3 separate regions of the Homo sapiens genome follow, and all the other regions are linked to region 2. The links come from fine-mapping of genetic effects on gene expression. A gene starts in region 2. Each other region holds a variant in brackets. All regions are shown on one strand. Distances are from middle to middle. Region 1 holds the start of LOC124903824 (a long non-coding RNA gene). Region 2 holds the start of SKI (SKI proto-oncogene). Region 3 overlaps SKI (SKI proto-oncogene).

Region 1 (9,858 bases), 87 kb before region 2:
CCCCACCGCACCTGCCCTGGCCCCTGGCTTCACCCTGCCCACCTGGGGCCTGTGCAGCTTGGCTGGTCTCACCCTCTGCCCGCCCAGCGCTGGGCAGGGAACCAGCCTCCTCAGGCCCTTGCTCTCCTTGCTCTCCCTTGACCCACCCCCGTCCTTGCAGCCCACCCTCTCAGAAGACCACCGTTTGCAGCCCTGGGGAGGGGGCGTCCAGGGCCCAGCCCCAGCCCCACACCAGACCCATGCCCCCTGATGTTTCCCTCATGCTGCTGTCCCCGGCCCTCCCACAACTAGCACCGACCTCCTTGCGTTGCGGCCAGACCCACCCTCCCACTGTCCAGGCGCGCTTCCCTGGGAACACACCCATCTCCCAGGCCAGCTGCGGCCGGGGCATCTCTCCAGACCTGCACAGGGAGCTGCTCCTGCTCGGCGGAGGGAGGCCGTGGACAGAGGAGCTGCGTTCACAGCAGTGCAGGAACCCGGGGCAGCCCCTGGGCACATGGGGTGAAGATCCACCCAGAAGCTGGGATGCTCCACGGTGGGGGGCCCTGAGGAGCTCTCAGGGAAAGCCTGGTTGGGGCCAGGTCGGGCGCAGCGTGGTGGATGCACTGAAGGCGGCCTGCTGCCCGGGGGCAGAGGGGCGGGCGGGGGGGCATTGCAGGGAGGAACCAGGCCGGATCGCGGGGTGCCGAGTCCCCCATCCTTGGAGGTGACAAGCTGGAGGCCACTGGAGCTGCAGCGAGGGGACCCTTCCTCTGCCAGGGCAGAGTGTCCCCAAGGCCCCCTGGGTCTGAGCTCTGCCACTGGGAGGCCGAGTGCATGTGGGGGGCTCTGGCATCCCCGAAGCTTCCCCAGACACCCAGGCATCCATTCCAGACAGCAAGGCAGGCAGCCACTCTCCCACACCTTCTAGAAGCCCAGAGCCAGTGGCAAGGCTGCGTCTCCCAGCTGCGGCCATCCTCGAGGCTCCCAGAGCCCAGGGCGGCTTCATCACAGCCATGGCTCCAGCCTCTGGTCCCTGGGAGCCCCGTGAGCGCCTGGCGGTTCTGACACTGCCCCTTACCCTTGGGGTTGGCTACGCCCGTCGGAGGGGAGGCTCCTGGCCTGCCAGGCCTGCTCCGACCTGGGTCACCAGCCTCCCAGGAGGCCAGGCAGACATCGGCCAGGCCGGGCCCACAGAGGAGCCCCCGTGAAGGACAGATACCACCGCGTCACGCTGACCCTGATCGCTGCGTGTGAGCGGCGCTCACCTGGGCCTGCCCCTTACATTTGGCAAATTGCTCTGTAGCTGTTTTTCACTTCAGGATGAAACCACATTTGTGTCAGAAGAAAAATAGAAAATGATGTTTCAATTTAGAGAAAGAAAAATTGCTGGGAACAGCAGCAGCTGCTGGGTTTCCAGTGTGTTGAGCGGCGTCCTCTGGGATTTAATTCCCAATCAGCAGCCTCGGCTTTCAAAGTCACAAAACCCACGACAGGAAATCCAGCGCTGTTTTCTCCACACGGGTGCGGCGGATGTGGGGATCTGCACCTCGGGGGGCTCCTTCGTGGCTGACAGGTGCATCTTGCCGTCCATCGAGGCTGACTTTTCTGTAAGCTCTCTGCAAACACAGAAGCCCGGGGCCGTCAGCTTCCTTGGTTATCACAGCAAAACCCCGGGCAGGCATCGGTGTCCCCTGTGCTTGCTGCCAGGGCCACTGAGGGCCCAAGAAGGTGGCCAGGTGGCTACCTGGCCATGCTCCTCTCCCCATGCGCCACCCACCAGGACAGGCCCTGGGGACCCTGGGAGGGAGCAGAGAGCCGTGGCTTCCTAGGGCTGCTGGCGCCTCTCTGGCCAGCATGCCTGGGAGCTAACGGGCAGCCAGCCTTGGAGAGACGCAGCGCCTGGGCCTCGCCTGGACTCCCGCCCCGGCCCCACTCACCCTACTCCTCACACCACATCCCAAAGTTAAAATACGCAGGAAATTTGAATTCTTTAAAAAAAAAAAAACCACTGCGGGAGAGAGGCTCTGTGGAGACAGCCTTGTGGCCACAGACACGACTCTGGAGGGCTGGACGTGGGGTGAGGAGCCGGGCGGGAGAGGGAGGGACTGCGGGGCGCAGCATCCAGAGACCAGGAGTGGCGAGGCGGCCGCAGGCCAGGCTGCACCCAGGGACAGTGACCCTCCCCTCAGACTCTGTTCAGGCAGCCCACCGTGGGGACAGAGTCCTCGGGACCCGCCACAGAACACAAGGCCTCCCGCGTCCCTTCACCCTGGCTTCTGGGTCTGCCAGTCCCCATGGCCCTGGGGAGGCCACAGAGACTGGCCCGTCTGTCTGGTCCAGCTGACCTCCTGGGCAGAGTCCCAGGACCCCTTGCTCTCTCGGGGTGGGGAGGAAGATCCTGGAAGGAGGACGCAGAGCCCCCGACACGCGTCTCCCACCAGCACACGCCCCCACTCCGGGGTGTGCCCGTCCCCCTGTGAAAGATCCTTTCCCATCGCCTGCCCCACGCAGGCCAGAACCAGTCCCTGAGTGCCGAGCCCGGGACGGGGTCAAGTGGAAGGATGGGGGCCCGTGGGCTGACCTCGGCTCGCCTGCCCCTGCTCACTGGGCCTGCGTCCGGGACTGGGCGCTGATTCCCGGGCAGCAGCCTCACACCCGGCACTGGGGCCTCAGTGAGTGGACAGACTTGCTGCCGCCGAGCAGCGTCCCTGCGCTGAGGGCGCGGGCCGGGGACAGATGTGGTCCCAAAGGCCTGGAGCAAGTGGTGACGGCCACCAGCCCCGCCCACGGCAGCCATGGTCTCCCAGGCTTCCCGGGCCTCCTCTGCGTGTCAGGGGGAGGGCGGGCAGCTCTTGGTGCTGGAGGTGGAAACACACCGGCTTTGGGGCCAGGGTGGCCATGCCACGTGACCGTCTGACTGCCAACACAGCGGGACATGAGCTGGGCTGAGGCCTCCTCCCAGGCTGGGCAGGGGCTCTGCTGGGCTCCTCCGGACCTGGTGGGCATGGTAGGGGCTGTGTCTGCCTCTGGCCTGCAGGCCACGGCCTACTGGTGCCACCCCTGGGAACCTGAGGCCAGGGACCAGGTGGCGGCTCTCTGGCAAGCTCACAAACACAGTGTGTTGGAGGTGGAGCCCCCAACCCCAGCCAGCCCCTTCTCCTGCCCCAGGAAGAGTCCTGGGGAGAGCTCCAGGTCCCAGCTCCGCCCACCTCCCTGTGCCCCTCCTACCTCCCTGTGCCCCTCCTGTTCCTTTGACCTCCAAACAAGGGAGCAGTGGCCATTCCTCCTTTCCTCCCACCCATGGTTACCAAGCGAAGATGACACCGAAAGAGAGCATCAAGCCAGTTGCTGCCATGGAAGATGGAGTCTGTGAGCCAGAGAAAGACAGAGATACACAGAGAGAGGCAGACACAGAGAGAGTCAGAGAGAGACACACAGAGAGGTAGAGAGACGGGGTGGGGATGGGGGGGGATGCCTGCCTCACCCCTTCAGCAGGGCCTCAGCCAGGACACCCTCCAGACCATGCCCAGGCCCCTTTGGCATTAGCAGAGGACAGCGTAGCCAGGCCACAGCCGGGAACCAGACAGGACCCACCTGACCTGTGTCTCCTTCCCAAAGCCTCTCCCTCTTCGCTCCTGGTGCCTAGCGGAGGGTCGAGACCCCTGTGCAGAGCAGCTCCTCGCAGGCAGGCCTTCCTGGAGGGCCAGGTGCCCAGCCCCATAGGCAGGTTCCTGCACAGCCTGGCCTGGCCTTCCCTGGGAGCCTCAGGCCTGGGCTGAGTAAGCCAGGAGTCGCTGGGCCTGTGGGCTGGCTCAGCAAGACCACAGCTCAGCAAAGTGCGCTCGGGGCTGACCACAGACCCATCAGCCCCTTCGTGTCCTGCCTCCAGGCCCAGGGGCAGCCGGCGAAGGTCAGGCCCAGGGCCTCCCGGATGACAGAGCCCCCAGCTGGGGCTTGCAAGGGGAGCTGCCAGGCCCAGGGCTGCCGGCCCTTCAGCGAGCCCTGGGGAGTCTGCCTGGGGCCAGGGTGGTGCCTGGCTGCCCTCTTGTCCTCAGCTTGACCTCTGGCGGTGGCACTCGTGAAAATGCTGGACACTCCTTCTCCTTGTACTTCCACCTCCCGCCCACGGCAACCAGAGCCAGGAGCCAGGCTGTGGGGGCTCCGAACACAGCTCCAGGGCCAGCAGGGCCTCCTCAGTCTGTGGCGCCGCCTTCCTGAGGACCCGTGGGGAACAGAGGTAGCTGCCCACACCAGCCCCCCAGCCTCCTTGGCTCCTGAGGTGGACCACAGCCAGGGAGGGCCCCCCAACAAGGGTCCAGGCCCTGCCCACCCCTGCCTTACAGCCCAGGAGTCCCCAGGGGGCAGGCCAGGACTCAGCCCCAGCTCTCTCTGCCCCTGCGCCCAGCTGCCCAGCCCAGTGGCTGCTCCCTGGAAACCCCTCGGGGACTGCATCTTGGCTCCCCAGTGGCCTCAGGGAACCAGCAGCCGTTCTCCGGCCTATCTGCAGCCAGGCCCCGTCCTGGAGACCCTGTCCCGCTGCCCCAGACCTGACCCCACTGGGTCCTCATCCACCCACACGTCGAGCATGTCCCCTGCTAGGGCCCCACCTGCCGGCTTCCATCTGGGGACAGGAGAGAGGACACGCATGGGCTCCACGGTCCTGCCCAGGCAGAGAGAGGCAGGCTGAGCACCACGGGGCTGCTATACCCCTGATGGGGTTAGCGGGAGGGGAGGCTCAGTGCCTGGGAACCTGAGGGCATTTCCTTCCACGGAGCTCCAAGCAGAAGCGGCCTGGGGCGCAGCCAGGCTCCCTGCTAGGAGGGCGGGTTTCAGGCCCACAGCTCAGAGCATGGGTGGGGTGCCTGGGCTGGGGGTCCCTGGGCTGATGGCCTGAGGGAGATAGGAGGCCAGGCCTGCAGGGAGCCAGGGGGCCCGTGAGGAGGAGAGACAGCTCTAAGCGGCAGGCCTCGGCGAGACCGCCTGTGTCTCATGGTCTCCTGTGGTTGGATCCACCGAGTCCCCCAGGTCCCTGCGGGTTGTGGCGAGTGGGCTCACGGAGAGAGGGCGGCCTGCGCCCACCTCCCCAGCAACGACTTGGCGGCTGGGGCCTGCGGGCCGGGATGGGGGGTGTGGTGGTTCTTCCCGGGAACGGACCCCCAACTGAGCAGAACAGGGAGGCCGCGCCCCAGAGAGAAAAGCACCCGAACCCGCCAGGCTGGGACCTTCCGGGAGGGCAGGGTTGGCAGGGACCCCCCAACCCCGAGCTCGGCCGAGCTGCAGTTCCCGCTTCCACCGCTGGGGGTCGCACCGCCGCCCCCGCCCCCGCCCCCGCCCCCACCGTGCCGCGGGCGGCGAAACCCGTGAAACGCGCGCCGCCTCCGCGGGGCCTGGGGTGGGGAAGGGGGGACGAGCGGGGGAAGAGGGGTACGGGGGGGAAGGGGGAACGGGGGGGGCGCTTCCTGCCGCCGCCCTGCTTCCCGCAGCGGCCTCTGGGGGCGGCCGCGCCCACCGACGGGAGGAGCCGCAGCCTCTGAGACCCCCGCACGTAGCCCGCCGGTTCGGGGGCGGAATTCCCACCTCGGGAGCCGCCCCCACGCTGCAGGAAGCTCCCAGGGCCTCCCGTCCCGCCCCCCAGCCCGGGCCTGCTGCTCGGACCAGCCGCCCCCGGGCCGGAAGCCCCCGCCCCACCCCGCCGGAATCCAGCGCTGGCCGCGAATCTGGGGGGCGCCGCCCCGGACGGCAGGGAGGGTGGGGTAG[C/G]GGAAGAGGCGGCGGGGGCGGGGGGGAAACTGAGGCTGCGGGGGGGAGCCTGAGGCTGCGGGGCTGCCCCTCCGCGTGGGGAAGTGGGGCCCGGCGCGCTCCGCCTGACTCGGGGCCCCCAGTGCCCCCGGACTGGGAACGGAACGGGCGTCGGGGAGGCCGCCCCGGCCCTGAGGACGCGGCGCGGGGCCCGGGACGTGCACCCCTCCCCACCCCCCCAGCGCGGCTTCCGGCCCGGGCGAAGGAGCGGGATTGGGAAGGTTTCGGAGCCGGCGCTGGAATTCCTGGGTAGTTCCTCCGCCACCGCCCTTCCCCCGCGAGGCCGGCCTCCGACGGGGCCTCTCCAGGGTGAGGGGCAGGCCCTGGCCTGGAGCCAGAAACAGGATTTCCCCGGATGCCAGGACAGCGCCAGGGCCGGGGACAGGCCGGGGCCCCACTGCGGGTTTTCTGTCCTGCGCAGCAGTGACCCCGCAGACTTCGCGCACGGGGCGCAGGATGGGGTAGGGGGCCCAGAGCCTTGGTCTGTCGGACCCTCAGCGGCCAGCGCAGGTCGGTGGTCATTTCGGAGTTCCGGCCACTGTCCTGTGCAGGAGTGACCCTGGAGGCCGCCTTGGTTTGGCCTGGGAGGATTCTAAACACGGAGGGGCCAACACCGAGACCCGAGAGACCCCGGCCTAAACCTGACCCAGTGCCGGCCACACCAGCCACGGCCCTCCTGGCATCCCTGGGATCACAGAATGGGACAGCCTCCCCACCCACAATCCCCCCAGGCCCTGGCGAGGGCAGCTCCTCCGACGCTACAGCCTTTTTCCTAGGACTGTTTTTCCTTAGAAACAGGAAGCTGGGGCATGGGCATCACGTCCCTCGGGTGCAGGCCCCACCAGGGGCAGGGCAGAGTGGGGCTGGACCACAGGGCACACAGTACCTTGCCCAGCTCCTGCCCCAGGGTGGGCACAGCAGGGCGCAGGGCGGTGTCCATCTGCAACTGGTAGCCTGGCCTAACCTGGGCATAGCACCGACCAGGGTCATTTCACCCAGCTGGGGGCATCTCCATGAGGGAGGACACGCAGAGCTCCATCGTCTGTCCCTGGTTCCTGCTTGCCCTCCACCAAGACCCCAGCCTGGCCAGGCCCACCTTGCAGGAAGGGCCAGAAGGTTCCGACAGCAGAGAGGGGGACAGGGCTGTCAGGGAGAATCTGGCAGGGCCAGGCCAGGGGGGCAGCAGCTGGCACTGGCCAGGGTACACGGGACCCTCCAGGGTTCGGGGCTGGTGGCCTGCCCGGCCCCCACCAAGGCCTCTAGACGGCCCTCGACCCTCCACACCCCTGGTCTCTCGTTCTAGATCTGGATGGCACCCAATCCTGGTTTCTGGGCTGAGCTGGGCAGCCAGGAGCCCACCCTTCCAAGCCAGCCAGTTGTATCTCCACGGGGCCTGGGCACTTGGCACCCCTATACCTAAGAGTGTCCTTGGGACAGCTGCGGGGAGGGGCAGGAGACTGGGAGACACTGCTGCCTGGGCTGACCCAGGGAGCCCCTGCCTCCAGCCCCTACCTCCCCACCTCCCCACGGTTCCCTGTCCCTGGAAGTTTCTGGAACAGGCCTCCTTTGCAGGAGGAGCCATGGAGGCCGAGCCTGGGCTGCACTTCTTGCCAGTAAGAGCTGCCAGGCCCGGCCATGGGAGAGAAAGGTCCGTTCCCAGCCCGGCTGGACACCTGGCCCAGCACAGGACACTGCAAAGACAAGCCAGGCTGGCCAGGCTGCCCCTGCCGGTCCTCACCCGCAGCGGGGCCACCTGCTCCAGGGCTGGGTGCCCCAGCCATTGAGGCCCCCACCCACCTGGCACAGGCCAGGCACAGATGGCCATGTGCGTCACTGAGACCGGGGGGTGGCAGGGCTGGGCGGGCATCCAGTCCCCAAATGTTCTGTCCTCACCCCCTCCCCAGGGTCCGCTGTGGGTGGAGTAGACAGGGCAGTTTCTGTGGGGAGGGTCGGGACCCCCCCGGGGCCAACACATCAGGGTCACGACCCCATCATTTCTGGAGGGCAGGCGGCCCTGGCCTGGGGGTGTCCCTGTGGGCTCCGCACCTCCTTCCAGCGGAGGCTCCGTGGGGTCAGAGGCCGGGTCGCCTGGAGCAGGACCAGCAGCTGTGCAGAGGCTACGAGAACAGAGTGGGTGGGGGCTGCCTCTTCCTGGCCAGAAGGAAGTGGGGGAGTCAAAGCAGGTGCTGGGACGTGGGGGTGGCCAGGCCTGGGCCAGGATGGGGTCGGGGTCTGGGCCTGTGGGCTGGGGCAATGGGTAGAGCCCCTCATGCAGCCATGAGGGGGTGTCCAGCTTGGGGGCCCCTGGCCATGCCCTTGGAGCACTGCGCTGGGGCAGGAGGGCGGGTTGGGGGTGAAGTGAGGGAGGAGCCGGGTCCCTGCTTAGGCTTAGGGCTGGGGCCGGACACGCGGGGCTGAACCAGTGGCTGCAGTAACTGGTCAGCAGTCTCCACTCCCCACCTAGGACGTGCTGGCCGCTGCCTCCCCAGACAAGGTCAGGCTGCTCAGCCGTTGTCGGCCCCCTTGACCACAGGCTGGTGGGTGAAGGCTGGCAGGACTGTGGCTCCAGGAGGAGGGGGAGACCAGCACAGCTGAGACCTAAGGACAGCTGTTGGTGACTGAGGCAGAAATGGGTGGGGCACAGGGTGGGGCAGAAACTAGGGAGGTGGGGGAGCCCCCATCCCCTTCCCTGAGCTCATCTTCCCCAGACCCCAGCTCTTGGGGGCTTGGGAACAGGCACTGCCAGGAACAGGGGTACTGGGAGCTGCCCTTCCAGGGAGCTGAGGCTGGAGGGCTAACCCGTGGTCCCTGCAGAGGCCCAGGCAGGTGTGAATGCTGGGAGTCCTGAGCCTGAGGATGCAGAGGTAGGGTGGGGAGGGCCATCTCTCTCCCCCCACCTCTGCCCTCCCCTGGCATGGAGGCAGGGAGCTTCTCCCACCCAGGCCTCCTCTCCCCCAGCACTCAGGAGACCCCTGGATCCCTTCGGAACAGCTTTGGGAAGAGGGTTCTGACCCTGGGTGACGGCTGGCCTAGCTCAGCAGGTGGCCAGAGCCCTTTAAAGCTCTAAGTTTATACCCAAAGGTAAACACCAAAGAGAAGCCTGGGGCAGCTTGGGGAACAACTGAGCCCAGAGCACCGCCCCTCCCTGCCCCCACGTGGCTGCTGGAGGCAGTGCCTTTGAGTCTCCGGGAGGGTCGGGAGGGCCGTCATCAAGCCCTGCGGTGCTCAGCTCCGAGGCAGAGTGCCCATGTGGCCACAGGGACGGTCCTCGAGGCCCACCCAGGACCTCGGCCCAGCCCTTCCCCAACTCCTCCCCACTGCACTGGACCCCGGGCTGGTCCTCTGTGCTCACAACTGACTCAGTCTCAGGGTCCTGCCAGCGGCACTCTGGAGCCGCCCATCCTCTGCCCCCCAGAACATGCACGTGCCCAGGACCAGTCCACACCCACTCCTGCTGTGGCCCATGTTCCCCTCGGCCCACGCCCCTGCCCACTGCCCCCAACACCCAGGGGCCTAGCCTGGATGGAGAAGCCAGGCCCATGTGGAGTGGGTGTTTTGAGGCCTGCTGGGGTAGGCCTGTGTGGTCTAGAGGCCGCCCTGTACCCTCCGTGGGGGCTCTATGAGCCCTTTGGGGCCCTGGGCAGGGAAGAAGGAAGCCCCTATGTGGCAGTGAGGGGAGGGCCAGGTCTGCTCTAGCCCCAAGCTTGGGGGCACTTCCCGAGGGGTGGAGAGAAGAGATGGGGACCTGGAAATTGTGCCGGGAGGCTGGGGGGAGGGGCCGGCTGGAGCCCCTACCAGCCCATGCCTTTCTCGGACCACAACCCAGATGACCTATGAGGGCCTGGATGGGCTGGAGATGCTGGATGTGATGGCCTAAGGAAGCCTAGAGAGGTGGTGGCCTGGCACCCCAGGGAGCCCACCCGGGGCTGTGCCTCCATGAAATTGGCATGCGGCATGGCACCTCCAATCCCCAGAACAGGGGTCTGGGAAGGCCCCCCTGTGAGGTCAGGTGGGGAGAAGGGACCTCTGTGTCTCCCTCGGGGCAGCTCGCTGGGGTCCAGGGTTCTGATGCCACCTCCC
Region 2 (9,858 bases):
AGGGGCAGCCTTGCAGTGACACGGGTCAAAAGCCAGCATGAGGGATCAGAAAACCCCCGTCGCGGACCCTCCACTGGGAAGCGCGCAGAGCTTCCCAACCAAGCGACCCTCAACCCACAGCCCACTGAGACCCACGCCAGCCCACACAGCGCAAGGGCAAGGGGACCTGCAAGACCCCTGGGAATTCAGGCATCTGCAGGACAGAGCAACAACACTGTAACACAACCCAAATTCTCCAGTCACCAGAATGCCCAGACTGCACGTGGCAGGTGAAGAACAGCTCTCACACAGGCAGCCCACCGCCCCTAGGAACAGGACGCCCGGCCCCCTCGGAGCAGGACCCCCGGCCCAGAACAGGACCCTGGCCCCCTCAGAACAGGATCCCGGACCTCTGGGAACAGGACCCCCCCCACCAGCCCTGTTGGAACAGAAACCCCGGCCCCCTCGGAGCAGGACCCCCCCTTGGAGCAGGATCCTGCCACGGCCCAAGGGAAGCACGGCACCACCCTGTTATCAGCCTGCACGGAAAGCGCTTGGCTGACGTTCTGCGGGACAAGGGGCCGCGTCCCAGGCAGCAGGCCAAGCGGCAGCTCCAACTGCCACATTTTGTCTCCGTCTCTGACAGCTGTCTATACTGACAAAAAAATGTAGTCCAATGGAGTCCTACAGCTATCAGAGAACCCGAGGAAGGAGGCGAGCCGACCGGAAAGAAGAAAGAGGGGTGGGAGTGGGGAAGGCTCAGAGGCTCCAGTCTTGGCTAAGTGCTCCCAGCAGCACAATGACCCATCTGTGCCCCACCTGTACCACTCAAAACATAAAGTCCAAGATCAATAAACAGTAGTCCCCAGTTTACACTGAGGCAGAGAGGTTAAGCAACTCGTCCAAGGTCACAAAGCCAGTGTGGGACCGAGTGGGGAGGTGAGACAAGGTCCCCTGTCAAGGATAGCAGCCCCAGGGTCCCTAAGAGGAGACTCGCCAAGCACCCATGCAGCCCACATGGTCTTCCAAGATACAGCAGCAGGAAGCTGGCCGGGCCCGACAGCCACTGGACAGAAGCGGAGGCTTCCTCTGTAACCCCGTGACATGAGGGGGCATCTGGAGGAAGACTGTCTGCCCCTCATGCTGCCACTGCACTGCCGACAGGCCAGAGGCTCAGGCACAGCCGCTGTCACAGGAGGCTTCCAAGGAGAAAGCTGCAGCCCTGCCTCCCACTTGGTTTGGGACCCGGGAACATCTCCGCCCTCTCCCACCTCCCACCATGGGTAGGAGAGTGGCGCTGACCCAGCCCACTCAGGCAGGAGACCCGACCCTGGCCTGGCCACAAACACCCGGAAGGCAATTCAGCCCCCTCCGGCTCCGCAGAGCCCGAAGGCCTGCTGGGAGCAGCAGCCCTGCAAAGAGAGTTCCAGTACATTCTTTGTTCTGCCCTCATCTTCGGCAGATCAAAAATATTAAAATAAGCTACAAAGGAAGTGAAGAAATCAAAACATATCCCGAGAATAAGCTGTCAAGACACGAGTGGGAGGAGCCAACGGCGGCCAGTGAGGGCGGAGGCGGGGCCTCCCAGGCCACTCCTTCTAGGACAAGTAGGGTCTGGGCACTGTGGGTCCACGCCCACCCTGAGACCACACTCCCTTCTCATGTGTCGCTCCTGTGCACACAGAGACACGCACACGGCTGTCCTGAGGAGACTTAAGGGGACCCTGAAGCCCAGAACTCCCAAGTGCACAGTCACAGAGCCTAAAGGGCAGGCACTGAGCGAGGGCAGAGTCCCTGGCCGCCATCCCACGTCAAGAACATAGAGCAGGAGGCAACACGGGCAGGATGGGTGCCCCACCCCCAGGAGCATGAGGAGAGGAAAACCCGCAGGAGCTGGTGAACATTCAGGGAGCCAGGCGGAGGACACCACTGCCAGGGCCAGGCTGTGTGGCTGCCACTCAGGCCTAGAGGACGCAGTCACTCACACCGTGCACGTCGTCAGTATGGCCTGGGAATTGCTTTTTAATCGGTAAATGAAATTTCAGAGCAGTGCTGGGGACTTCAAAAGGGAAAGGCGGCTCGGAGGCATCCGCTGAGATGACCAGAGCCTGTCTGGCCTGTCTCTATGGCGGCCCAAGGACCCCGGCGCTCACAACCACAGGGAGAGAGAAGCCGGGTGGCCTGGGCCCTGCTCTGTGTCAGCTGTGACAACGAGGCCCCACTGGCCACTCCAATGGGCCCCCAGCAAAGCCCAGGAAGACAGAAAGACCACAAGCACACACATGACCCACAGTCGGACAAAAACAAACGCAGACACACCCTGCTCAACCGAGATCCTCTGCCATCAGCTCTGAAGACAGTGACGTGAGCGTGTCCCAGCAGCTCAGGCCTTGGCCACAGGTGACCCACTACGCAGCCTGCACGAGCCCACAATCCCCCCCGACATGTGGCTTCCTCCAGCCACAGGCACTGACGAGGGTGCGGCCACCCCAAAAAGAAAGGCCCCAGCCCACAGGGAGCGCCATCGGGCCCACCCCAACCAACTCCCCGTGTGACACGAAGGGCCCCAGCCTGCTACGTCTGTCTGCAGCTCTGCCACGAGCATCCTTCCCCAGCCCACAGGTCTGCAGGCGGCTGCCACCTGAGCCCTGGCCTGGCAGGGTCAGAAGCGCGCACACACAAACACACACATGCACACACACATGCACCCTCCGCAGCCCCCTCCGAGCAGAGGCGACAGTCCCTCGCTTCCATCCACAGCCCCTCCTCCCCACGATCTGACACTCTGCTGGAGGGGCGCCCAGAGAAAACCGGGCTGGAGCATCTATTCACAGATTTAGAAAAAAAAAGTTTGATGCAATAGCTGAATTAATTAGGCCTCCCAAGAATAGCTGAGCCAATGCAGCATTCTGTGTGTGCAATTTAATAAGCCTGGATATTTAAAAGAAAAGTTACAAATACTTGGGGAGGTACGCAACGGAAAGTTCCTGAGGACCCCACTGAGTAATTTCGGCACCTCGTGGCCTGGGAGCTGCCCATGCCGGATCCCATAGATCCTCCAACTGGCAAACAACAAAGCCAGGCCAGCAGCCTCCCTCTCCGGCGCACCCCTCTGCGTTTCAGAGGGAGAGAAGGAAATGGGTGAGTCCAAAGCAAATCGCAGGCCGCCAGTAACTCCAGCACGCGGGCCCAGGAGCCTGCTGACCAGGCCCCTCAGCCGGGTGCCAAATGGCCCTCACCCCACACGGCGGACTCTGGGATTTGGTCCCTGGCAGGCCCAGGGAGACCAACCAGCACAGTGCTGGAGCCGCCAAGTCTCGGGCCCCTGCCACTGAAGCCTGGACACCTGGCTTCATTTTGTGTCTGTGTCCCAAAACTTCAAGGCACCAAACAGGGAGCGGGAGCCAGTAACAAAACCAGGCCTCGCCTCACCCAAGCTCTGTCTCCTGGGGCCCAAAGGCAGGCAGCCCTCCGTCTTCGAGGCTGGGTGCCTTCGGGGCGAGGACAGCCACCTTCACCCCAACCCCAAGAAAGACCTGGGCCTGAGGCATCCGGGCCGTGGCCCAGCTGGACCTAACTTCCCTGACCTGGGGCAGGCCGCTTTCTCGGGAGCATGAGGCCTGTGCCTTCCTATCTGGGCAATGCCTGTGGGCCTGCGGGCCTTCCCCACACACCAGGCCTGGCCCCCCACCCCACCGCCACAGCCCGCACTCCAGGCTCGTCCTGGGGAACGGGCAGGAGGGCCTTCCTACCAAACTCTCTGGCCCTGCCAGTCGGAACACTCTGAATTTCCCTAAAACAAAGCGAAGACTGGAGACATGGGGCACGGCAGAAGCACAGGTCCCAGCCTTCGGAGACCAGAGCCTGTAGTCCAGAAGGGGCCCCCACCCCAAGCGCATCCTCCCCAGCTCCCAGGCCTGGGGCCACTCACCCGGGGCACCCGCCGCTTGTACTTGTTGCCATAGTCGAATTTCTCCTTCACGTCGTCCAGGCAGCGGCCGAGGCGCGCCTGCTCCTCCTTGCCCGTGTAATCCTGGCTCAGCAGGATGTAGGCCCGCCAGTTGGCCGAGTCGAAGCCCCAGTGGCAGGTCCGGTTCTCCAGGGCCTTGTGCGAGTGCACCACGAACTTGTGCGGCGGGTACATGAGGCGGCAGTCCAGGCACTGGATGCAGGCGGCGCTCGGGCTGCTGTAGAGCTCGGGCACCAGCAGCCCCTTACACTTGCCGAAGCACTCGTGGTACACGCGGACGCTGCGCTCGCTGAGCTCCAGGCCCAGCGCCAGGCTGGCGGCCAGCTCCTTCTTGCAGGGCGGCGGGTAGGCGCCGCCGTAGAGCAGCGCGTTGCACAGGCGCTCGGCGTCCGTCTTGGTGATGAGCCCGCACGAGGGCGCCGAGAAGGGCAGGATGCCCATGACTTTGAGGATCTCCAGCTGGTCGGCCGTGCAGCGCGAGCAGTAGATGTGGAGCTCGTCGCACACCGCGTTGATCTGCTGCAGCGAGAAGTCGCGCAGCACCGAGTTGAGAATCTGCGGCAGACACAGGCGCTTCTCGCCTCCCACCACGAAGCACGAGATGGTCTCGCCTTCCAGTACGGTCTCGCAGCGCTCGGTGGAGCGGTCGGACGGCATGAAGAAGGGCCCGGGCAGCACGGGCGGCGGCGGCTGGATGGCGGGCAGGTGCAGCACGGGCGGCGGCTCGGTGGCTGCGGGCACCGGCGCCGGCACCGCGGCCGCGCCCGCCTCCTTGGCGCTCTCCTTCTTGTAGGCCTCCTGCGCCCAGCGCGCCGAGAAAGCGGCCGGGCCGCCCAGCGAGCTCATGGAGCTCAGGTGGAACTGCTCCAGCGTCTTCTGCAGCCCCGGGTGCGGCTGGAAACAGCCGCGGCCGCCTGCCGCCGCCTCCATGGTGCGCTCCGGCTCCCCCGGCCGCTCCCGCTCCCGCGCGCCCGGGCCCCCCCGGCCCCCGCCGCCGCCCCGCGCGCCCCGGCGGCGCCCGCGGCCCCGACCCCGGCCGCCCCCCGCCGCCGGCTCACGGCCGATCACGGCCGCGGCCTCGCCCGGGGGCGCGAAGGGGAAGGCGGGCGGGGCGAAGGGGTCCCGCCGCTGGAGCCCGCCGCCGCCCGGGCCCGGCGCCACATCCACGCGCCCCGCGCCGCGCCCGCCGCCGCCCGGGCCCCCCGCGCGTCCCCCGCGCGCCCCCCGGGCTCTAGGCGCGGGGCATGCCCCGGCGCGCGCCGCCAACGCCAACGCCAACGCTCGCGGGCCCGGGGCTCGCGGGGGGCGCGCGGGCAGGTGCCGGCGCCGCGAGGCGCGAATCGCCGCGGCGGCCGAGGCCGAGGGGCCCGGGAGGAGCGGGGGCGCGGGCGCGGGGCCCGCCGGGCCGTCCTCGCGCGGCGCGCCGCCGCCGCCCCGCTCCTCCCACCGCGAGGCGCCCGCCCGGCTCGTCCCGGCGGCGCTGGCCGGCCGCGTCGCGCCCGCCGCCGGCCCCCGGCCCGCCCGCCCGCCGGCTCCGCGGCCCGCCCGCCCGGCTTCCGGGGCGGCGGAGGCGCCTCTCGCCCGCGGCCCTCAGAGCGCGGCGGCGGCGCGGGGCTCGGGGCGCTCGGCGCACATCCTCCCGGCGGCTCGCTCCGGCTCGGACTGAGCGCCCGGCGCTGAGCTCACGCCGCCGCCGCGCCGCCCCGCCCCGCGCCGCCCGCTCCGCCCCGCGCCGGCCCCGCCCCCCGCGCTGTTTGTTGCCGTGCGTCCGCCTCAGCCCTAGCGCTGGCCAAGAATGTGACCCGCTCCCCAGCCGGGCTCTTCCAGGAACGCGCGCTCCCCGCCCGGACTCGGCCGCGCTCGGCTCCGCTCGCCCGGGACTCGGCCACGCTCGGACCCGCCCTGCCATGACTCGGCTCCGCTCGGCCGGGACTCGGCTACGCTCGGCCATGCTCGACTCCGCTCGGCCCCGCTCGGCCCCGCCCGCCGAGGGCCGCTGGGCGCGGGCGGAGGCGGAGGCGGCGGTGGCGCCCGGGGCCCCCCTTCCGGCCGAGGCCGCTTCCTGCGCCGCTGGGAAGGCGCCCGTCTCGCCGCCGTCGGGGCCCAGAAACCCACAGGCCCCCGCCACGACCGCAAACCAGCTGGGGGCGGCCGGGGGGCCACGCCACGCACCCGGGGTTCTCCCAGGGTGGGACACCACACAGCGGGGAGGCCCCGGACGCCTCTGGGGTCCCACACACTACCGGGACGCCACACGGTGACCTGGGGTCCCACACACGAGGGGGACAGCGGCCACGCCCAGGGACCCTGCGCCGAGACGGGCACCGCGTCGCGTGACCCTGGCGGCGCAGCCCGGCGGCCCCCGCTGCGCCGTGGCCGGTGGCTCGGTGGCCGAGTGTCCGCGGCTCCCGGCCGCGCCGGCCCCGCCCCGCCCGCCGGCCCCTGGCGGAGTGTCCCTGCTGCGCGGGCCGGGGGCTTCGGGCCTGGGAGGGGCGGCGCCCGGTGCCCCAGACGCAGCCGGTCTGCCAGCCACTCCTGCCAGGTGGCTTATCAGGACTTCGGCCCCGCGGGGCCCGGCGTTCGGGCCGGCGAGACCCCTGACCTCCGCCCCGGGGCCGTGGAGCGCTGAGACGTCTTTCGGGGTCGGATCGGCCGGCCCTCCACGCCTGGCCACGCAGTGGGAGAGACTCAAGCCTTGGCAGGGCGGGGAGCGGGAAGCCCGGGGCCCCGAAGTTGGACAGTCGGCCGGGTGGTCTCCAGGGGAGGCAGCTTCCAGCGAGGCCTGCGGGCGCAGGGACGCAATGGTGTGTTTGGGGAGGGGCAGGGCTCGGTCTGTGCTCGCCTGAGGCGGAGGGACATGCCCCACGGGCCGGGGGTGCCCAAGCTGGCCTGGGTGCTGGGCGGAGGCGAGAGGGCCACGCCGCTGCAACCTGAGTGACCTTCAGCTGGGACCTCCTGCCCCTCACTTCCCCAGTGGAGGCTGGAACCTGCCTCAAACCAGCACTCCTGGGCGCAGTTCCTATCCTGGGGGAGCCGGCCCGGAGTCCCTGTGCAGGTCTTGGCCGGACCTGCGGCAGGGCAGGTGTCTAGAGAGGCAGCCAGGACCTACCTGTAGGTGACCCCAGGGCGGCTCCATACTCCCTCTCTCCGCTGCCTTGGGGGTTGTCTCCTTGTCCTCACACTCCACACTGTCCCCCGACTCTTCCCATTCACTCCGTTGGCCCCCACAATTGGAGGCCAGGCTTTCTCTGTGTGTTCACACACCAGAAAGCTGGGTAAGAAGATCATTTCCTTAAAAGTGATATTTAACCCGGCAAGGTGGCTCACGCCTGTAATCCCAGCACTTTGGGAAGATAAGGCAGGCGCATCGCTTGAGCCCAGGAGTTCAAGACTAGCCTGGGCGATATAGTGAGACCCTGTCTACAAAAAATAATTTTTTTTTTTAATTAGCCGGGCATGGTGGCCTGCACCTGTGGTCTCAGCTACTTGAGAAGCTGAGGTGGGAAGATTGCTTGAGCCCAGAAGGTTGGGGCTGCGGGGAGCCGTGCTTGAGCCTCTGCACTCCATCCTGGGTGATAGGGACACACCCTTTTTTTGAGACAGACCCTGTCTCAAAAAAAAAAAAAGGGTCAGCCTCAGTGGCTCATGCCTGTAATCCCAGCACTTTGGGAGGCCGAGGCAGGCGGATCACGAGGTCAGGAGATCGAGACCATCCTGGCTAACGGTGAAACCCCGTCTCCACTAAAAATGCAAAAAATTAGCTGGGCGTGGTGGTGGGCGCCTGTAGTCCCAGCTACTCAGGAGGCTGAGGCAGGAGAATGGCGTGAACCTGGGAGGCGGAGCTTGCAGTGAGCCGAGACTGCGCCACTGCACCCCAGCCTGGGCGACAGAGCGAGACTCCGTCTAAAAAAAAAAAAAGGATATTCAGTCCAGACGCAGGGGCTCACGCCTGTAATCCCACCACTTTGAGAGGCTGAGGCGGGTGGATTATTTGAGATCAGGAGTTGGAGACCAGCCTGGCCAACATGGTGAAACCCCCTCTCTACTAAATATACAAAAATCAGCCGGGCATGGTGGCACATGCCTGTAATCCCAGCTACTCGGGAGGCTGAGGCAGGAGAATCGCTTGAACCTGGCAGGTGGAGATTGCAGTGAGCTGAGACTGCACCACTGCACTCCAGCCTGGGCGATGGAGTGAGACTCTGTCTCAAAAAAAAAAAAAAAAAAAATAGAAAAGGGACTTATTTGTTTTCCTGGAGATAGTTTCGTTGGCCCACGTTTTGGACAAAACACAGCTAGTGTTGCACTTGACGTTGTCACTTCCTTCCATCTGGATTTGAATTCCATACAACTCAGTCAAATTGTAACTCAGAGAAGGTGGTTGCAGCCAGGCCTGCTGGGAAGTGTCTCCAATCAAGCAGAGAATTCCTCTGGCTCCTCTGGTGGACCAGGGGCTCTGTGCAGGGCCCCTAGCATGGGCAGTGCCCACCCAGAGCCTCTGCTTCCTTCTGTGCCTCTGGCTTTGCAGGGTCCTAGCCAGGGACCAACACTTTGTCCAGAGTGCGGACCCCTGGGAAGTAGCCATAGGTGTGCCATGGAGTGAAGGTGCGGGGACAGGTGAGGGCCTCCAGTTGGTCTCTGAAGCTACCTCCACCTTTGTGGACTCTTGAGACTTCCTTCCCCCAATATGTCAGAGCTTCCAGAGGAAGGCACCCACCCCACCAAGGGTCAGAGCAGCCACGCCTAGAGGGAGCCACCAGGGTCCACTTTTCTTCCTGAGCTTGGCAGGGAAGAGGGTGGGGGGTGTCTCCCGCCTGCTGGCCTTCCACCCTCCAGCCCCGCCCAGCAGCTGCCCAGGCCAGTCGCCCACGCGGGCCACCATACTGGCAGGCCGCGGGTTAAGGCTGCAGGCACAGCCACAGCGCGGAGTAGGGTGGGATGGACGTGGTGCCTGCCCAGAGAAGCCCTGGCATGCGGGCAAAGGCAGGGACCTCCCAGCTTTCTCCCTGGCCCCTACCACGGTGACAGGCTTGGTCAGCTAGTCATGAGTTTGTCCCCTTGTTCGATGAGCTCCTACCACTGTAGACACTGGGATCAGGGTAAGGAGACCAGGTTGTACCCCGTGTGGTTCCATTCTGGTGTGAGAGACAACAGTCAATCAACAAACCTGCTAGTACGGGAGCGAGATCTTTCAGATCCCCAAAAGGCGCGGAGTGGCTGGGGCTGGCTGTAGGCAGGGAGGGCCTCCTGGGAGGCTGGCCTTGGAGTTGAGACCCCCACCTTAAGGAGCCAGCAGTGTGGAGATGAGTTGGATGGCGCCCCAGGACCAGAAAGAGGAAGACACTGGCAAAGCAAGGGGTACCCCAAGCTTTGGGGGAACTTGGAAACCTTGGTGGGGAAATGCATCGCAGACCAGCTCTGCTCCACCCTGCCTTGCCCTGCCCTGCTGCCACCCACTCTCTCCTCCTCAGGAAGCAGAAGGAAGGCCTTGTAGCAGCCAGGCATAGACTGCCATTGGCAAAAACATGCTCAGTTACTGGGAAAGAAACCTTCAAATGTGAAAATAAAAATTGCTCAAGTAACATCAGCTTCGTATAATTTTGTTTTGTTTTTGTTTTTGTTTGAGATGAAGTTTCGCTCTTGTTGCCCAGGTTGGAGTGCAATGGTGCGATCTCAGCTCACTGCAACGTCCATCTCCCAGGTTCAAGCGATTCTCCTGCCTCAGCCTCCCGAGTAACTGGGATTACAGGCGCCTGCCACCATGCCCAGCTAATATTTTGTATTTTTAGTAGAGACAGGGTTTCACTATGTTGGCCAGGCTGGTCTTGAACTCCTGACCTCAGGTGGTCCACCTGCCTCAGCCTCCCAAAGTGCTGGGATTACAGGCTATGCCACCGTGCCCGGCCAGT
Region 3 (9,551 bases), 71 kb before region 2:
AGGGCACGCGCACCCGGGGAGCCCAGGTCCTTGGCGGAGCTGGATGAGGTAAAGGACGGGGAAGAGAGCGAGGACAAGGAGGAGGTGACTGAGGAGGAAGCAGAGACAGAAACAAAGTCATGGAAGTGCCCGGCAGCTCCACACCAGGGAGACGCGCCGCTCCCGGAGGAACCTGCGAAACATGGGGCCACCAACGCACCCCCGGCGACCAGCCCCCCTCAGCCAGTGCCACCCCCACAGCCCACAGGGAGGAGGCACAGAAAGCGACTCACACGTACATTCCTCCCTGCTTTCAACTTCCACCTCCGCCTCCGAGTCCTTGTCCTCCTCTGGGGCAGCCACGGGCGCCAGCGTCTCTGGGGCTCCTGGGGTGTCCACAGTCAGCTTCCGCTTCCGAGGCTGGGTGCAAGTGGCGAGAGGCTCGGGGGCCCGGGAGACGGCGGCGGCACACGGAGGGCTGCTCACAACCTTCTGCTGGGCCGGCGGTGCGAGGGCCACGTTGGGCGCCACGGCTGTCTCAAAGCTCTTGTAGGAGTAGAAGCTGGAGGGGCAGGCGGGTGTCGGGAAGGTGCCTCTGTCCCCAAGCACCACCCAGACACATCCTGGCGCACACCCCCTCTGAAGGTGTTAAACAGGAAAGACTTTCCCAGCTCCGAATCTTCAAGTCAAGCTTACAGTTCCCTAAGAACCCGTAAGCGTTTTCTGCTTGCTGGGTCTCTTGCGAAGGCCAGACACAGGCCAACACATCAAGAAGCTGCGCCCAGCAGACAGGGCTCCACCCACGACTCCACCCAGAACACAGGGAACGCTCTAGGTGTGCTCTCCCTGATGCCAGCCAAAGGAACCAACACCGAGACTGCCCTGACCAAAAGGCGGCAGGTCTGGGCACCCAGCCTGCAGAAACATGGGCGCGTCCGCATGCACAGCCCTCGTGGAGCCTCCCCCGTGATCAGAAACACCTGTGAATGGCGCCCACTCACCTGTCTCGGATGAGGGCCGGGAGGTGTGGGGAGAGCTCTTTCTCACTCGCTGACACTGCGGGGGACCAGGGTCGGAAAGCAGAGAGGCGCTGGCGAGGGTGAACACAGCCCAGGCTCTGTCGAGAAAGAGTTGTCTGTGTGAGTGACCAGGAGAAAAACAAGCCACTTCATGTCCCTGAGGCTGCGCCGGGTGCCAGCCCTCAGTAGCGGGCAGGTGGAGCTGCCAGCCGCTGGGTCTGCCCAAGGAGAAGGGCCCAGTACCCACCACCCCAAGGACCCCGACAGGCCCCACAGCACCTTATTGGAAGAGCCGGCCAAGGTCCGCAGCCAGCTGGACGGCTTGTCCTTTTCGGAAGGCGCGGGGGACTGGGAAGAGGTGTCATCTGTTTTGGGTCTTATGGAGGCCGGAGGCTCAGAGGAGACCTGCGATCAATGAAAGGTTTTGTTGGCACCTGTGGTTCCCAGGGCAGGGTCCCTCCACCAGCCCCGTGGCTGGCACATGGCAGTCAGAGCCCCATGCACTCCGGCCACAAACGACCCTGAGTGGCGCAGAAGGCAGATTCCAGGGCACCCCCCAGGAGACCAAGTTCACTTTGCATAAAGGCCCTTAGGCCACGCGCAACAGGCACGTGGAGGCTGTGCTGAGGGACAAGTCATCTCCGAGAGAACAGAGTGGACCTTGTCCTGCCATTCCGGGTGACCTCACCCACGGCTGCAGCAGGTTTGGGATGGAGCACCAAGACCCACTCTCCCCTTCCACAGCGGCTCAGCCTGGCCAGGAGTCCCTCGTCCTTCTCCTGCCAAACCCCTTTCCTAGAACCCGAGTGTGTCCTCAGAGGGTGCCCAGCGCTGGGCACTCAGCTCAACCAGCCACAGCACGGCGAGAGCCACTCACGACGGATGCGTCTGGGAAGGGCAGCTGCGGCACAGGGGTGGTCGCGGGGAGGGGACACCGTGTCCCTGTGGGCCACTGGCACAGGTGCATTAAAGAGTGGGCATTCTGGCTGCCCCCTCCCCATGGGAAGGAAACATTTTCAAAATGAAGGACACCATCCCCAAGGAGCCTGGCTCCTACAGGATGGCACCACACACACCTTTGCCTCGCTCCTTGCCAGCCCCGGTGCTGGAGGAAGCTTAGCGAAGGTGCCCAGACCCAGCCCACCCAGAACCAGGTCCCGCTGGTGGAGGAAGCTTAGCGAAGGTGCCTGGACCCAGCCCACTCAGAACCAGGTGTTGTGTGTCAGGTGCTGAGGCACATCCCCCAAGAGCCAGTGAGTGATGTGGGTTGTGTGCTGGGGGCCTGAGCCGGTACATCCAGCCTCAGGCAAACGTGAACTCCCACAGCCCTGCGGCTGGAAACCCCTGAGACGGTGCTGCCCGCAAGGCACAACTGAGACCCAAGGTCTCTTCCCAAGCAAAATCACAGGGCAGTCTCCGTAAAATGGGCCATTCCTCTACTGCCAAAGACCCCACAGGACAGCACAGAGTCTCCAGGGCAGCTGGCACCAGGTCTACACCACAGGCCAATGCAGAACAGGCCACACAGGGCAAGGGGCCCTTCACAGGGGTGAGGTCCCACTCACTCTGCCGAGGCCAACCTCAAGAGGAGGCAGCAAAGTCGGGCGGTGGGGGCTCCGCCCTTGCCCTCAGCCAGGAAGCCTTGGTGGACAGAGCACACTCAGGGCCGGGGGCTCTTCCCACCTCCAGGACTCTAGGAGAAGACGCTGCATCAGGAACCAGCCTCCTGGAGGCAGCAGGGACCCTGCTTCCCTAGGGGGAAGATGGGGCGCAGGGCAGGCTGTCCATCAAGGTGCTCCAATTATGGGGATGGAGGGCCCTGGGGGAAGATCTGGCCAAAGCCCGTGGCCTCCCCTGCAGCACGTGCACCCACCCTGCAGCCCTCAGGGAACAAGCAGGGTGGGGCCAGGGGAGGGGCAGGTGCCTGGCTCTGACCTGGGCCCAAGGGAGAAAGATAAGTGCTCGGGCGCACAGGGCCGGGGACGCAGGGCAGGCAGCCCCTGAAGGCTCACGGCTGTGGATGGTTTTTTTCAGAGACACTAAAATAGCTGTTCAGGAAAAAAGACACTGAAAATACCCCCTCTATGTGGCGGCTTTCGAGGGGAAGTGAGTGTTGATGACGTCTGGCGGAGGCCCTGACCGCAGGGTGCTGTGCCTATGCCTGGCAGGGGCGGGTGCCATCCTAGCTGCAGCAGAGCCCCTTCCGGAATCATGCGGACCCTCCCGAGAGGCACAGAAGGCCGAGGACGCCCGGCTGGGTGGAGCTTCCTGTCTAAGCAGCCACTGAAGCGGGCG[C/A]GGAAATTCGGCTCAGTTATCACCCGGGGAAAAGCCACAACAGCCGGCGCTGACTCCGGGAGACTCAGAGACTCCTTGAGGGGAAAGAGTCAGATGCCTCAGGCCACCTCCATGAGAGCCAACGCCTGAGAACACGGCTCTGCCTGGTGGGGCCCCAACAGCCGCCCCGTGGAGGTGGCGGGAGGACCGTAGGCCCGGGGCCCCGAGCCCAATCCGCTCAGTGGGGGGTGGCCGAGGACCCTGCAGATCTGGAGGGTTGAGGCAGATGGGCTCAGGGCCATCCTTGGGGCCAGGGACGCTCCTGGTCTTCAGGGAGCCAGGACGAGCCTTCGGAGACATGACTCCGTTAAGACCCCTGCCGACCCCTCATCAGGCGACTCCCGGCTCTCAGGGCGGGCTCTCTGCAGCATCAGAGAAACGGAGAGAAACGTGTAAAATAGAAGGTGTCTGCGCCCCTGTGGGCGGAGGAAGTGACACTCTCAGAGGGACTGTCACCTGAGCAGTATTGGTTTCTCAAAGCCCCAGGAAGCAGACAGCCGTCTTCAGGCCTGGGATGCCACCCGCCCTACCAAGGCCCCTGGGGGCCCCAGTGTCAGCTGTCGGTCAGGGACAAAACCACACCCAGTGACAGACGGCTGAGTCTTACTCTGGGAAGAGCAGCTACGACCGCTTGCCTCTGGTGTGACCCTTCCTGGGGCTTCAAAACCCGCCCTTGGAGCCCACAGGCCACGAGGCAGGAGCACGGCTCTGGACCTGACACACCAAAGCAATGGGGCTGGGCCTGGATAGGCCTGCAAGGGGCTGCCCCATCCCAAAGCCCTTCAGGCCACTGTCAGCTTACACAGCGGAGGCCAGACGACACACCGCGCTGCCCCGCGGCCACTTCCCCTCCTGGGGTCCTTCCCCACACCCCGAGGATGACCAGGCAAGCTACCTGGCCAGCAGGCACCCGGGCAACGCGTGTGAGCTTGCACCCAAGGACAGGTGCCCCCCTGCCAGGGCAGGGCAGGGCTGGGCTGAGGAATAGCGGGCCCAAGACTGTGGACACCCTAGGCCCTCTGACGGAACAGTTCCTGAGCAAAGCCCACAGGACCTATGCAGAGGCGGTGGCCCAAACAGGTGAGCCAGCAGTGGATGCCTGCCGAGGACTGGGCAGCCACAGTACACTGCCACAAGCAAGCCACCAGCTCCCCATGGGGGAGTCTCAGAAAAGACGCTCTCCAAAAATGCACACCCCACCCTTGGGGGCCCTGCGTTTCAGGCCTGTAAGGTGCCAGGAACAGAGAAGAGCCATTGAGAAGGCCTTGGGGACCCTTTCCTGCCTGACACGTGCAGATGCTCAGGGCGAAACGCTGGCCCATCCCCTGCAATAAGGAAAGGGAGTCTGGAGGTCACAGAACTGCCATCTCCCTTCCCCAGGCCCCTGGCACAACATGAGTGGGGGCTGCTTCTCCTGCCAGATCCCACAGGGTCCAAACACAGAAGACCTCAACCCCCCAGAGCAAGGAGACGCTCCATGTCCCCTACCCTGGCAGGGAGGCTGGAGTCCTGGACAGCTGCCGAGGGAGACGCCGCAGAGGCGGAGGGCACTGAATCCAGAACCGAGTGCAGCAGCGGTTACAGCTGGCCTCTGTCCCCAGGCACCTGAGCCACTCCAGACAGGCTGAACCCAGTCTGCACATGTCCTAACAACAGCTCCTCCCAGGGCACCGAGAGCCCGGGTCGTCAGCTGGGCCACTTCCCCCACTGTGGCCTCAGCGCCTCTCACTTCCAGAGTCCGTGAGGAGGACATGGGCACAAGCTGCTGCCCCGCCTGCCCGTGTGGCCCCCCCCCTCCCCGAGGCAGGGACAGTCACTCGGGTCCCCGAGCTGATGCCCACAGCTCCGGGCCTTCTCCACACTGAAGCTGAATGACGGGGCTCAACGCCGCATCCCCGCCCTGCTGGCCACTCGGCGCTGACGGTCGCTTCCTTGAACCTTCTGAACACTGGGGTCTGAGTCAGCCTTTGCTGAGAGAATTCACACCCCAAATCCACACAAAACAACCACATAGAGCCTGCTGTGAACCTCCACGACCACCCGGCATCCACCCACCCAGGGCTCACAGGCACCAGCAGGCAAGGCTCCACCCAACTAGAGAAGGCAGCTCCCACACCAGGACCCCCCAGGGCAAGACTCCGGGGAGGCGGGAGTGAGTAGTGGGCAAGCACCACAGGGTGAGCTCTGGGCACCAAGGAGCCCACGGCCTGGAAGCTGGCACACGCGCCCGCCCACCACAGGCACATTCTTGCTTTTGACTGATGATCAAAGAAGGCCCCATTTGGTGGGCGCGTTGATACAGCAGCCAGGATCGGCCACGTCTGTCTCTGAATGTCTGCACCTCACCTGGGATGTGGTCTGCCTGGAAGCAGCACCCAGACCCCAAGGCCAGACAGGCCTGCCTGTGAGTTTTCAGCCTCCCCTTAGACTGGTCTCTTTGCCCTCATTGGTAAACGGGACCCCGTATTAGGGCCAAAGGATACAAGGGGGAAACAGGACCCGGGCAGGGTCCCGCCTCTGCTCATGCTGCCTCAGGGAGCTGCTGAGAAAGCCATCCGGCCCGGGGACAGGCCACGGCCACACCCCAGACCATCCTGAGCATGGGCAGCCAATCCAGGAGCCGGGGACCACACCTGCTCCAAGGGAGAGGCGCACAGCAGCAGCCATGATGATGTCAACACAACTCCCTCCAACCCCAGGGACAACCACAGGGAACTTCGCAGAGTGAAGAAAACCAGTTTTCTGTTCAACTTGCAGCCCAGCAACCTGTCAGGAGGGCACCAGCCTCAGTCACCCCGGGACCCCAGTGTCCAGCGGCCAGTGTGCCCTCAAGCCCCCACGAGGGCGCGCATGTATCCAGCTGAAACAGACATTGAGGCCTTTGTGACGCCGGCTTCACATGTGAACAACGCACAGTGGCAGAGCGGTTGAGCAGCCCACAGGTCAGTCCAGGGGCCACCACCAAGCTCTGTGGGTCAGGCTTCCGTCTCCACACCTGCATGGATGCTCGGCCCATGACCACCCGGTGTCAAAACTGCACTCTGGTGCGGGGGGATGGACCCACAGCTTGCGGCTACACCCCAAGGCCTGCCACACAGCACAGCCCACCCTGCAACCCCTCCCGTGCGTCCCCTCAGCGTCTTCTCCTGCCAGGCTGCAGCCACGGGGCAAGGGGACCCTCCAGGGGAATGCATGCGCCATGGGAGTGGCCAGTCTCAGACCTGCCCATGCACACCGGGCGGGCCCACGCCTCCTCTCCTCAGCATGCAGCATCCGCAACCAGGCACAGCTGCCATGATGGGAACTGGAGGGAAATGTGCGGCCAAGGGCCGGGAAGTCCTGCAGACGCAGATGCTGCCTCGCAGGGTGAGTCCGTGAGCGCCAATTCGTCTCTGTACAGGGGCCACGGGCTTATGGAGGGGATGGCTGCCACCAATAGGCAACGCTGTGGAGTGGCGCAGATGTTGTAGGCACCAAGAAGCCTCCAGAAGCTGCCAGCCACAGTCCACATGGTGGTGCAACCCTGGGGCCACAGCAGGTGGAGCGGCAGGATCGCCCACAATCTGGGTTCCGAGGAGATCGCCTGTGCTGGTGTTCTGACATTCCCAAGAGGCCGCCCACAGCGTGGTGAGCGGGCTGGGCACTCGAGGTCCTGCCTGTGGCCCTGCTCCTGAAGCACATGGCCCAGCAACACTCTGCTACGCTGAGGTTCTCTTCGGTGTGGCTGAAAACCCGTCTGCTATTCCTTAAAAGGATACAACCCAAACTTCAGCCGTGGGCCCGGCGTGGTGGCTTATGCCTGTAATGCCAGCTCCTTGGGAGGCTGAGGTGGGAGGATCACTGGACCTCAAAAGGTCGAGGCTGCAGTGAGGTATGATCCCACCACTACACTCCAGCCTGAGCAACACACTGAGACCGTGTCTCCAAACACAAACTTTGTGGTTTTCAGACCATCTTGCCACATTCTTCAAGTGGAAGACGGCCTATGCCCACACCAAGAGCCTGTGCGGGTGCCTGGCACCTCCATTCAGTATTTTCAAGGGAGGCCACCAATTCTCACCTGCAGAGGCCACGGGCCTTGTGGGAACAGCACGGTATGCTCTCATGTCCCTGGCTGCAAAGACTGTTTCTGTGCACGGCCTCCTTAAACCATTTCCCGGACTGAACCGTCTGTAGAGCCGAGGCTGCGAGCGCACGTGAAGGTTTTCACAGCAGGAACGTGGCGGCCTCAGTCCAGACTCCCGCCCCCGCAGAAGTGCTTCCATGACACCAAAGCACAAGGAACAGAGAGAAAACACAACAACAAGGCTTCCCAGAAAACAATCACGACGTCTTTGTGCTTCAAAGGACACCATCGAGAAAGGGAAAAGACAGCCCACAGGATGCAAGGGAAAACGTGCAAACCCGGTAGCTGGTAAGGGACCAGATTCAGAACACATGAAGAACTCTGCAAGTCAGCAAGGAAAACACAAAACACAACCCAATTTCCAAATGGGAGAGAATTCGAGTAGCCATTTCTCCAAACAGGATACTAACATCCAGTAACCGCATGCAAAGCTGCCTGACATCATTCACTGTGGAAACGCAATCACACCGCAGGGAGACGTCAACTCACGCCCACAACGATGGCTAGAACTGGGTTTGTTTGTTTTTGAGACGGAGTCTTGCTCTGTCACCCAGGCTGGAGTGTAGTGGCACGATCTCAGCTCACTGCAGCCTCAACCACCCAGGGCTCAAGCAATCCTCCTACCTCAGCCTCCTGAGTAGCTGGGACTACAAGCATGTGCCACCATGCCCAGCTAATTTTTTGTTTTTTTTTTTTTGTTTTTTTTCCTAGAGACAAGGTTTCACTTTGTTGCCCTGGCTGGTCCTGAACTCCTGAACTCATGCAATCTGCCCACCTTGGCCTCCCAAATTGCTGGGACTACAGGCATGAGCGCCTGGCCTAGAATTTTTTAGTTTGGACAAGTGTTGGTGATGACATGGAGACACAGGAACCCCTATGCATTGCTAAGAGGAACGTACAATTATTTAGCTGCTGTGGAAAACAGTCTGGCAGGTCCTCGGAAGCTTAACACAGTTACATCGCCCAGCAATTCCAGTCCTCGGCGTACACGCAGGTTACTGAAAACACACATCCACACGACAGCTTGTGCACAAGTGCTCACAGCAGCAAAGTGCAGCCACCCAAGCATCCAGAGACAAATGACGGGATAGATTGTGGTCTGTGCAGACAATGGAGTATGATTCAGTCATGAAAAGGAAGGAAGGAGCCTTGAAAATACTGTGCTGAGGCCGGACACACACAGTCACACGTGGCCTGGACACATAGCCACACGTGGCCCGGACACACAGTCACGTGTGACCCGGACACAGTCACGCATGGCTCTCATACACACAGCCACGCGTGGCCCAGACACACACACAGTCACGTGGCTCTACTTCTATGGAATGACCAGGACAGGCCAATGGCCAAGATCAGTGCTGGCTGGGATTTGGGGCCTGGGGAGTGACGGACCATGTGCATGGGGCTTCTTGTTGGGGGTGACAAAAATGTTCTCAACTTAGATGATGATGGCTGCATATACTGAAAAACCATTAAACCATATTCTGTGGAAGGAAGAATTTTATGGTACGCAAATTATATCTGAATACAGTCTTAATTTTAAAAATCAAAAATATGACAGTGAATTCTTGGTCGAAAGCCAAACTGTCAAGGTGAATGGTTTTCACTGCAGCACGGCCCTCAGAGCCAGACAGGATGAGATGCCTGGGAGCCAGAGGGGCGCTCGGCTGGCATGGATGCTGCCATGACATGCAGGGGCAGCTCCTGGCGCAGGGCTGCCACACTGGCACACCTGCGTGGACACACAGGACACCAGGAAGGCTCCAGGTCTGAGTCTTTAGCAGCTGTTCAGGGTCAGGCAGCGCTCACCTGCCACAAAGCCCACAGTGCAACTTCACCTCTGGAAGCCTAGTTTTTCACCTTCTAAAGCCCATCAAGAACAGAAAGCTCCATCTGAGCCAGGGGCCTGACATCCACTTTAGGGAACATTCTGGTCCCTGTCACCAGGGGCATCCCACAGAGCCCTGCCACCACCCTGAGGTCAAGTCTCCTTTCCAGAGGGGCCCCACTGGGTGGGCGTGGCCTCCAACCCAGGCACAGGGGATGGCAGTAATGATAACGTGGAGGGTGGATCCTGCCCTGCTGTGGGAGTT

The links. PIP is the estimated chance that this variant, and not a neighbour inherited with it, causes the effect.
Region 1: its variant is fine-mapped to the expression of SKI in whole blood (TOPMed, PIP above 0.99).
Region 3: its variant is fine-mapped to the expression of SKI in whole blood (INTERVAL, PIP 0.99).

Annotation. Positions count from the first base shown.
Region 1 is chr1:2,310,730-2,320,587 of GRCh38, reverse strand. LOC124903824 (a long non-coding RNA gene) reads right to left here and starts at 5,593. Exons shown (of 4, transcript XR_007065362.1): 1 at 5,560-5,593; 2 at 4,590-4,642; 3 at 3,577-4,196; 4 at 1,320-1,598. RefSeq lists enhancers at 4,527-5,280, 6,761-7,414 and silencers at 5,152-5,441, 5,592-5,751, 5,842-5,961. The variant C/G (reference allele first, on the strand shown) is at 5,740.
Region 2 is chr1:2,223,788-2,233,645 of GRCh38, reverse strand. SKI (SKI proto-oncogene) reads right to left here and starts at 5,327. Exons shown (of 7, transcript NM_003036.4): 1 at 3,911-5,327. The coding sequence starts at 4,879. RefSeq lists enhancers at 2,399-2,448, 2,095-2,756, 6,586-7,406, 8,761-9,261 and a silencer at 5,497-6,266.
Region 3 is chr1:2,294,830-2,304,380 of GRCh38, reverse strand. SKI (SKI proto-oncogene) reads right to left here. Exons shown (of 7, transcript NM_003036.4): 2 at 1,278-1,403; 3 at 981-1,096; 4 at 279-541; 5 at 1-88. Among named protein-coding and RNA genes, the nearest start is that of SKI, 71 kb to the right of the region's middle. RefSeq lists enhancers at 3,163-3,222, 5,462-5,973, 5,974-6,485. The variant C/A (reference allele first, on the strand shown) is at 3,294.